2 separate regions of the Homo sapiens genome follow, and region 2 is linked to region 1. Evidence: fine-mapped expression QTL. A gene starts in region 1. The other region holds a variant in brackets. All regions are shown on one strand. Distances are from middle to middle.

The links.
Region 2: its variant is fine-mapped to the expression of C8orf48 in left ventricle (GTEx, PIP above 0.99).

Annotation. Positions count from the first base shown.
Region 1 is chr8:13,564,360-13,569,747 of GRCh38, reverse strand. It overlaps C8orf48 (chromosome 8 open reading frame 48), which reads right to left and starts at 2,879. Exons shown (of 1, transcript NM_001007090.3): 1 at 1,460-2,879. The coding sequence starts at 2,756. The coding sequence ends at 1,797. It also overlaps a transcript of DLC1 not described here.
Region 2 is chr8:13,512,154-13,517,541 of GRCh38, reverse strand. DLC1 (DLC1 Rho GTPase activating protein) reads left to right here and starts at 2,691. Exons shown (of 18, transcript NM_182643.3): 1 at 2,691-2,940. The variant C/T (reference allele first, on the strand shown) is at 2,931.

The DNA.
Region 1 (5,388 bases):
CCTGTCTCAATAATAAATAAGTAACAAATTTAAAAAATAGTAATTCTGAGAACTGTATGCTGACATTTGGGAACTGTATGCTGAAAGTCTTGCTGAAAAATAGCTTGGGGTTGAGTTGAAAAATAAAAAGGAAGAACAAAAGATGACTCAGATTTCTAGCTTGGTTGACTAAAAGGGTGGAGCATGCCCTTTAATGGGGGAATTCTAAAGGGAAAATTATTCAGAATTTTGATTATGTAAAACATGAATATATTGAGATGTCAAAGATAAAGCATGACATAATATGGATTTCAAATAAAAGGTTATTATGAAAATGGTAATGGTTATTTTCCATTTAGAATGACTTACTAAGGGGAAATATGCTAAATTTTATGGGGGAAAAAAATAGTATCTTTATACATAAATGAAGGTCTTAACGCAAAGAGTAATACTGAAGTACAATACTAAAACTCTTCTGTGCTGATTTTTGCAAACAAATTTCTTTTTCACTGAGATAATTCAGGTGTTGGACATGTAGAAAAGTGATCTCCAGGTAATGCCACTAATTCCATGGTTTTATATTTTTATAGAGGAAATAGATAATAAATGGCTTCTCAGAATGCCATCTAACATTTTTCTCCATAAATGTGTTTTCAAAATGCCATGGTATTCCTTGTGGAATAATACTGTTTCCTCATTACATAAATTTGGATGAACAACAGAAGGTTCATAAAATCTTCACGACCAAAATGGCTATCTAGATAATTTGTTTAAGCGTTCTTCTCTCAAAACTCAACACCTAACCCCAGCTTTACTTCTTCTTCCCCTTACAGCTAAATATTTCAAGGAGTACCCTATATCCATTCATTATTTACTTACATTTTTCCTCAATCTATTTTGTCTGCCCCATTTGTATAAGTGAAATGGCTTTTGCTAAGGTCAGCAGTGCCCAATACATGACTAAATCATCTTTACATGGCTTCTCTGTTGATTGATGTGGTTAGACAACTATCCTTCTTTAAATATTCATTCCTTAGCATCTATGACACTATACATTCCTGATTTCCTTGATCCACTTGATAACTTTTTTCACAATCTTTTCTGCAGGTTTATTTTTCTCTACTTAGCCATTAATTGGCATTTCTCAAGAGTTTGTATCAACCCTGCTTCTCTTCTTATTCATTTCCAAAAACGCTTGACAATCTACGGCTTCAACTTCCAGCTATATGCCATTGATCCCCACCCTTCCCCCAGTCCTACCCCAATTTATTTTGCACCTCTAGGCTATACCTTTCCTCTGAAGCGCAAAAACAAATAATCAAATGTTTCTTCAAACTGTCAATGTGTATGTCCCAAATGCACCTTATATGTCCAAATAATCATACTCTTCAACAGTTCCATCAAACATAGTCCTCTTCTGGTGTTCCTGTCTTAATGAAATTAATGATCATTCATCCGGGCGCACAAGTCAGAGCCTTAATAACATTTCAAACATCTACTATTTATTAATTCCCCATAGCCATTTGATCGCCAAAGACAGTTATTACTTTTTAAGTTTCTCTTACATCCCCATACTACTTTGCTTCTGTACCATCAACATCCTGGCCCAAACTACCAACATAGTTCTCTTGGAATTTTGTAAAAGTTTTTATAACTATTCCAACTACAACAGTGCCTTCTATAATAGGAAAAAAAAAGTGAAAGTTCTTAGTCCTCAAATCTGTGAAGGAAGCATAGTAAAGTCTTAAGTTAGTTTCCCAAGTGCCTGTAGAAATTATGGTAATTACTCAAATACACAACAAAGACATCTATCCACATTACACATTATCATTAACAATCACCAGCTCTGGTTTGATTAGAGTAAGTCGCTTGAGAAATGGCAGAGAAAATGGTAAATGACAAGCACTATTTCCATCTCGCTGCAACTTCTGCTCTGTCTCTGATCTTTCAAAACCAGAGTATCTGATATGACTTTTCTCAGTCAGTCTTTTCCAGATTATTCTGGGGTCATCTGAAAGCCTGGGAAAGTCTTGATGTGCTTCTCCAATACGGGTGAGAAAGTCTTTGGTATGAAGATGTTCATCTATTCTCTCTTGGAGTAGAAATGACTCCAGTAAAGTCTTCTTTTGTTTCAGAAAGGCAGACAGGGCCAGCTCCGCTCTTTTCCTGTTACAATAGGGACACTGATAAGATATGTGTTGCTTAGCTGCTGCCTCCTGTTTTGGCGTTGTCCTCATGTTTTTAAAGTAGATTCTGTTCAAAAGTTCATCGGGTACAGTACAACTAAAGGCATCTCTCTCTGAAGCCTCTACATCCAATCCAAGATGCAGCTTTTTATGTCTGCTGCTCGTCTTCTTCTTAGAATCCCCTCTACGATGAATCAAATTTATCTTCATGGTGCAATAAGACTGCAGGGCATTCAATTCTTCATCTGATACCCGAGTGATTTCTGTTGGAAGTTTGGTGTCTGGTTGGTGCCGTTCAAAGTTAGAGTCTTTGAGCTTGAGGTAGTTGATCCATTTTTTACTCAACTTCTTTTCATAATTTTTATAGTCCAAAAGCTCAGATTGTGTGTCTCCTTGTTCCAAGCTTGGAGTCTGCTTTTCCCTCTCCAGTTTGCTCCCAGAGGTCAGGGGCGAGGACTGCCGTCCTCCAGAGGAGCTGAATGAGCTGGAAGTCTGTACCTCATCAGTAGAGTTCTTCAAAGTCTCAGTCTCATCAGAAAGGTTTGCAAGAGCACTTTTGTCCGTTTGGGCCAATTCTGGGCAGATGGCCATCACAATGCATCAGGCTCGGCTCCTCATCTCCTTTGCCCAGGTTAAGACTGGCTCAGGAACCCGTCAGGAGCTGACCCCTCCGGGAATGGATCTCAATGCCATCAGCTCTGCGGAGGTCGTCTTCCGGGAGACGCCTTCCCAGCTGTCTTGGCAACGCGGGCCGCTCATGCGCAGTGACTGGCCACCATGCGGCGTCCCGCCTTTTCCTCCGCGCTCCCCAGCGCCCACTGCGCTTGCGCTGCTTGCGCCGGGTTGGCGATTTTGCCCTGTCTTCTGCACTCCTGCTTCTCTTTGGTGCTAAAGTCGAGTAGTCAACGGGAAAACCTTGCAAACTCTGTTTCCCAGGGGTCAGACAGGTGGCACACGTGTGTGAGACCAATAGAGTTAGGTGGCCTGTGACAAATCCGAACGTGTACGCCCGCCTAAATGCATCTAGATTTAAAAATCAAGCAAAACGCGCTGGACAAGATGCACAAGCAAAAACTTGTCTGCAGTGTTTATAGCCAAGAGACACCTCCTTGTAGAGCATGTCTTTGGGGAAAAGTCAAAATACAGAAACCATTCTGTAAGAAGTAGTGTTCTGTGCTCCAGCATTCTGAGGACCTCGAAGTTTGGGCGGGGTCGGGGGTGGGGAGCAGGGGCGGGGGAGGACCTTAATTTTCCAAATCAGTTTCTCTGGCCTTTTGTCCATACAGGTCCCCTCTGGCTAGCATATCCACGCCCGTCCTCACTCTTAATATCGTTAATTTATCCTCCTCCTCCGAGTCCCATTTCCTCAGGAAGGGCTTAATACCCACCCCTGCCTTAAACTCTTTCCAGCATTTTTTTTTAAATAGTGTCCAACTATGTGATTGTATGAGTATCTGATTATGAAGGCTGAAGGCAGAAATCATGTCGGTGTTGCCGACTAGTATGAGCCCAGCAATCAGCAGACACATAGCAGGTGTTCAAGAAATCTCTGTTGAGTGAATGGCTATGGAACAAATAAATCTTACCTTACACACGTCCAGAGGATTTGGAGAAATAAGTACTATAAGTTCAGGGAACTCTAACCTTTTTTCTAACTGAATCCCCAAACTTAGGCTATTACACAGGATATATTTTTTATTAATGGATTCATTTAAAAAACACAGTAGAGTTTTATTAATTATCGTGAGAAATTATAAAATGTTAACTCTAGAGATGGACTTTTCCTAGGTTATAATAGTTCTTGAGTCTAGGACTTAGTCAATGTCTAGGATAATTTTAAGAGCCTAGACACCCTTCTTTCTCAGTTTTGTCTCTCTCTCTCTTTCTTCCTGTGTTTCTTGGGGATTGGGGGGTATTATTCAGGTCTAGCCAGATATATTCCCCAAATGTTCATTCTGGCAAAAAGTGAAAGTCAAATATTCAAAAAGCATCTCTCAAGTATATGAGCCAGCTTCCTGTTGAAGATAAGGAGACTCCAACTTCATTTATTCAACCCAAATTTTATTTTATCATATAATGGTAGTCTTTAAAAAAGAGGTGGCATGTAATTTGTGAGTAACTCCAAGTAATTTCCAATAGGGCTCAATATTTTCCTTATTTATTATTTCAAATCTCTGCCTCATTCTCTGAATATTTACACATTCATATTTACACACTATTCATGTTTTAGCTATATCTTATCCATAACATTGAACAAGGGAGCTATACTTAAAATAAAATCTATCTGTGTCTTCTAACATGCCAAATGTCTGGGGTAATCTGTCTTTTTTATAATCGTGTCTTAAATTTCTCTTGATTTTTAAAAATAACTTTATCCTAGAAGGAGATATATGTGGGTGGGAAATTCTATAATTAATTTCCTTGTAATATTCAGCGTGACCCAGTGGACAGTTTTACATTCTAGTAAGTGTGTTATCTAAGGAAGAAAATTTCTCAACAGTACTATATTTATCAAATAAGATTCATGAAAACACAGGTCAAAGTTTGATTTTAAACAAATATGAAGAGTAATAGTTTTCCTTTGGAAATCTCAATCTTCTTGCCATCTCTCAGGGGCTGTTGGGAATGTCAAAATGCTTTGTGGACCAAGCTGTGGCTGAAGGCTGCTTGTGGTGGGGATTGGGAGATATGAAGAATAGAAAAGAGAGTCCAGTCAGGCTCTCTTGGCCTAACCTTGCTATGCCCCTCCTGTTACTGTTCTGCAGCTACTTTCTCTTCTTCCTAGTTCCTATCAGAGAGCAGGGCCAAGGGTCTTCTCCCAGCTTTTTCCTTAATGATCAAGAATGCTTTGCAGCTATAAGGCCAACCCCAGAAAGAGGAAGTCAAAACAAATTCATGATTCCCCTTCTCTCTTGCTTTCCTTTCCTATGGAGGGAGAAAAGCAAACTTTCAGCATCTGTCACTCTGGCAAGCAATTCTCCCCCCAGATATCATAAACGTTTCCATGATGAGTTGGCATTTGGCAGGTACCTCTTCCTGGTGGTGTGCAGTGTACAAAGTGGGAGTCTAGTTTAAGTATAAGAGAGACTACGATGACAGAGCCTTCAAAAATATTCTACCCTTTACATCAACTTCTCAAGTAACGCTGTGCTTGGTTCTGTAGATGCAGCAAGATGAAATGTTTAGCTGTTCTCCTAGGGGGCTAAGTTGAATGTGACAAGAA
Region 2 (5,388 bases), 52 kb after region 1:
TTATAAGACTATAAGATCTGAGATTTGTTTGGAATCAAGCAACTCAACAATGAAAAATAAATATAAGTAATTAAAGATTTGGGAAGTAATCCTATTAATAGAAGAAAACATAATGTATTTTTTGTGTAGAAAAGGGTATGTTTATGAGAAACTTACTAACAAGAGTTTCTAGATATCTAAAAGGCATTTGTGAACAGAGTTTTCTTGTTTTCCCAAGCCAATAGAAATAGAAACAAAACTAAAGTATATGGCGCGGGGTACAGTATTCATGAATAAAATGTAGCTAAGAATTAGCATGATGCTGATATAATATTGAGTAACCACTGTATATCAGTACTAAAGGCAGTGACAGAGATAGAGATATCAAGTTATATTAGGAAAGACATAATATCAGTTCTCATTCCTTTCTTCTCCAGTGTTTTTCTTAGGGAAATAAACATAAATACACAAATATTTCTGCATATAAATTTCATCCTGCTTTCCAATCTATAAGTTATGTGAAATTGTCTCTATTTTTAAAGAGAAACTATTAGAGTTTAAGAAGTCTTCCCAATTTAATAAAGAAATTAAGTGGAAGTCAAGGAAGGCAGTTTATGGAGAAAAAATTAAAGCACAAAGCTTGGAGCTAGAATATCTGAGTTCCAGTGTGGACCTGGGCACTTTGTATCATTTGACTGTGAGAAAATTGCTTCTCAATACTTTATTTGTAAAATAAAACATATGAATACACGCAAAATTGTTGGAAAGATTAAATAGGCATACTGTCAGTAGAAACACTTTGAATATAAATATAAATACTTTTTAAAGAATTTATGGAAGAACAGACTTCTTTCTTGGCCTATGGTTGAAGATTAAATTAAAGAAACCTAAATGCTCATGTTTTTAGTCAATAAGACTTTGATCTAAACTTTTAAAGCTGCTTCTGACCAAACGTTTTTATTTGACTACTTCTCATCTTCAAACTCATGCACAGTATAAGTCATTCTTGCCATCTAACATGGGTCTAATATGGTTCATGATTTGCATTAACTTTGAGAGATTTTAGCTACCTAATAAGGAAAAAAATAGTAGTTAGAACCTTGTGCATCTTTGAGTTATCACCTACCCAATATTATCAAAAAGTACTACAAGATAGCCCTTGTGATATACAGGGATGGAGAATAACAGTGAACAATGAAAACTACTTACAATTTCAGAGAAGAACAGGATAGATCTTAGGGCCAACAAGTTTAAGATGTCTTTTACCTCTTTATATGTTACTCATTTTATCACATCCAACTGGAATTATTCTTGCACTTCCTATTATTGAAAGCTTCTAGAAATTTGCAAGAAGCAGATAGACCTAATAATTAATCTGATCATCAGTCCCCCCCCAAAAAAATGCTTGAGTCATAAATAGCAGCGAAATCCATTGATTGTAAATAAAGTAGAAGGGAGACATGACTGAGCCATTTCCACCAAGCAAGATAATTAAAGTCAGAGATGCTGTTTCCTGCTTCCCTGGTATAAACAATGAAGCTGCTCTACTGGCCTCTCCACAGCCTGGATGTCCCAAAACCACCTCCCTCTTCTTTCCTTCCACATTCTCTAAAGAGGATTCTGGGTCATAAAGGAAGGAAAATTGGTGTAACTTTTTTCCTGAAACGACTTCAGCTTCCTCTGTGTTTGTATTTGTGATATCTTATTATAAGACGAGCTAACATCTATTATTAATTGATGCACTAATTAAAGCCATACTTGCAGTTTCCATTAGCTTATTCCCTAAATTCTCCAGAGTTGCCTGTCTGGTTTTAATCAAAACCAAATGGTAGTCCAAATTCCCAACCTGGAGCAGCTAGGAGGAAGTCATTCAAGGGAGGCACAAGAAAGCAGAAAAGATAAACAGATGATAGTTCACAAAATTTGTGACGGACGAAGGATGCAGATACCATGAGCGGCTTTAGAGATGTGATTCAGGAACGCTGCCATGCTAGATGGAAGCAGTTGTAAGTGTTTAATGTCAGCAAGACTCTAATACGATCAAGATGGAGCCTGTCTTCTGCTCCAGCACTGGATTTTTGTAACTGGAGGATTCTGACTAGAGGTAATGCGCTGCTGCATTTGCCATAACACGAACTATTTTAATTCTGTGAAGGATTCTTGTGATCAGAGAGATCTGGAAGAAATCGTTCTATTAACTGGATGCTTGGGATTTTACTTACAGATGGTCTCAGGGACAGAATGAAAAGCTGCAGCATTTCCAATTTTAAGTCATGTTCAAAAAAGGTTTTGCCATTTAGAAGAATTATGGTATTAAGGCTAAATTCATCTTGCTCTCTTAAAAGATCTTTTGAAATGAGAGCAAGCACAGGCATTTTGATTAAGCTGTGCATATACATTTAATATAGTGGAAAGGTTGTGGATAGAGAGAAAACTACGTTTTCTTTCTTTCTTTCTTTCTTTTTTCATAAGCAGTGTGGGATAGAAAAAGCTCTAGGACTTTATGACTCTACAGCTAATCACCTCAAGAGCTTTGACAAAACTCACTTGAGTTCTGTGTAAAATCAGAACTCCTAAAACGCCCAGGCGGCTGGGCTCTCCCCTCCTCCCCTCTCTTCGTACAGCCTTTCTAGCATGCACACTCCTCAGAGGCAGGAAATACTTTCCAGGCAATCTGGGCCTGGTTGTGGAGGCCCCTTTTGCAAAACCTCAGTCTGAATTTAGTAGACAGAAGTCACTAGGAATGCCTTGACAGGATCCTGCCTTAGCTAAGGCTCCCTCCAGCTGCAGAGGGTGTTTTTGTTAGACTCACACACTGCGTGAAACTGCTCAGAATAGAGCCATGATCTCAACCACGAAATGGGAACTTAGATTTTGGAGAAACTAACGGGGACGGACTTCTTTCCTAGCCTGAGTGTTGAGCAGTGTCATGCCTTGGCGTTTCAGCTCCT[C/T]GTTGTCTAGGTAAGACGCTATGGACTATCTTTATGCTTTGAGGCGGTCTTTGAAGAGGCAGAAAGATTGAGATAAATGTTAGCATCTTGCACGGAGTTGGTGACTTCCTAGGTTTTAGAGCAAAGCCATAAAATCAGAAGTGGAAAATGTTTGATAAGTAGAAAATTCTGAGTCAATTCGTTTTAGCAAACTGTCAGTTCTAAAACAGGCTCCATATAGATTTAACTCTTTTCCTCCATAAAGTAAGATTTTATTTTTATCCCTTTTTACGTTTAACTTATTTATTAATTGAGCTGTCGGATCAGTTTTCCTATTTCTTGGCATAACGTGAAACAAATACATTTTCTCACACATCAGTGTGAGGTGTAAATGAATTCCTCCCCTACCTTCCTTTGCCAACAGGGAGAGTAGAAAGCACCCGAGTGACTTGTGCTTAATAATCAGTCTCCAAAGAGTATTTTGTGTCTCATTTAAAACTACGAAGATTGAATTTCTTATTATTTTACCCAAGCCAGTTTCAATCATATGTCAAGCTTCTCCTGTACAGCTTAAAAGGTTCATTTAAAAAAAAAAAGTAAACACGTGAAATTTCAGGAATTATTTCTGTCCTAAATAGTATTTAATCTGAGTTTTGGAAATTTAAATGTCGGAATCGAATTTAGTTTATATTAATTTTCCTGGATTCACTGCTTGCTCCGGTCACATTTTGTGTAATATTTTGAATAACTGAAGTCAATCTCAATGACACTGACACTCATTATAACTCTTTTAAGGCAGCCAGAAATCACTCCAGTCATATGGAAACTGTTTGTGTCCTTACTTATGTAATCGTAAAATTACATTTCCACCTGACTGTAGTCTCTTCAAGGTAATCTTAAATGTTTAAATGTACAATATATTAGAAAAGAAGTTTAGTAATGACCGAAAAAGTGTGGACTTATAATGCATAAGATACTGTTATATTTCTGAATATTTATAATAAAATTCATCATTTTATAGAAATAAAATGGTACATAAAGGGAAGAAATATTCATGTACATTTTCAAATCTATTAGATGAATACAAAATATACTAAGTGAAAGATGGAGAGCTATTTTGACAGTTGGATCATAAGAAATGAAGTAACTGTTTTCATTATAAGTTTTTATATAGTACAAGGTGACCATCTGCTATATTAGCTATTCTCAAATTTTATGCTAGAATAACTTATATTGATAAATTTTAACTATTCACTGACAATTTGTGTTAAAACTTCTTAAATATGAGAAAAAGAATCTACTTTTTATATATGTGGAAGATAAAATACTGACTTATCTAAATTATGATTTAATTAAAATCTCCAAATGGAATTTCAGAGAAGGAAAGAACATAAGAGATGGTCTCCTCTAACAATGGCTTGAGGTTGTCTACAAGAAGCTGAGAAATGGGATTTAAAAGTGACCTGTCCAAGGTCACACCTCTAGCTAATAGAAGAGAGGACAGCAGAACCACAGTGCCCTGATTCATAATTCAGATACCTTTTTATCCCATCATCCTGCCCTCCCATAATAATTATGCATAATGAAGTATGAACATGTCCAGTAGAAGGGTGCTTTGCAGACAGAAATTTGCAGTTCCTCTAATTTAAAAAAAAAAAAAAAAAAAGGTAAAACTGTCACCAATGTTAATTATGTGGGGAAAAAAATCCTAACTTTAAAAAAAAATCAAATCAGTATGCCTTCAATAAACACTTTACAGTAGTAACTTGCTTTATGACTATTTTATTATATTTGATGTTTATGTCAAGAAAATCAATCCATATGCTAATAATTATATTAATTTTAATCTGATGTTTCTTTAAAAATAGGGCTAGAAAACAGCTTTTCTAATTTATATCCTTGTACTCAAATGATCATAATGAAACTGTCCCAACCAATGACTTTCAGAGGCAATTTTACAGCACCACCCCCAGGCATCCTTTCTTCTATCTAGCCTAAATCATTGTTGCTGTAGCTTATTTCAAGTTCTATGTGGGTCTTTTCACTAAATATATAAAAAGCCTAAGTTGACATATAAAAAATATGTTTACATTTCTCCAGCATGTTTGCAATCCCTTAATTGATTTGTATGTCTGCTCTAAGCCTTCTACAAAGTCATTTAATTGTAGAATGCAGAATTTTTACAGTATATAAATAAATGTCTGAACAACGTGGTATAAAATGGGAGCGTGGGCTATTTCATCTGCATCATACTTCATATATGACAATATTTGTTGCTGTGTGTGCTGAAGCAGTATACCTTCTCAGACAAGACCCTTTCTCATAAATGTAACACATTCCATTTCTAATAGCTGCCATTTCCTTAGAGAGAATGTGTCACGATACTTTTTTTTTCCATTTTCATGACCAGATTGAGTTTCCTGATGTTATTACTACTTAAAAGAGACACTATTCAACACTTCCTTTCAATGTCACCACA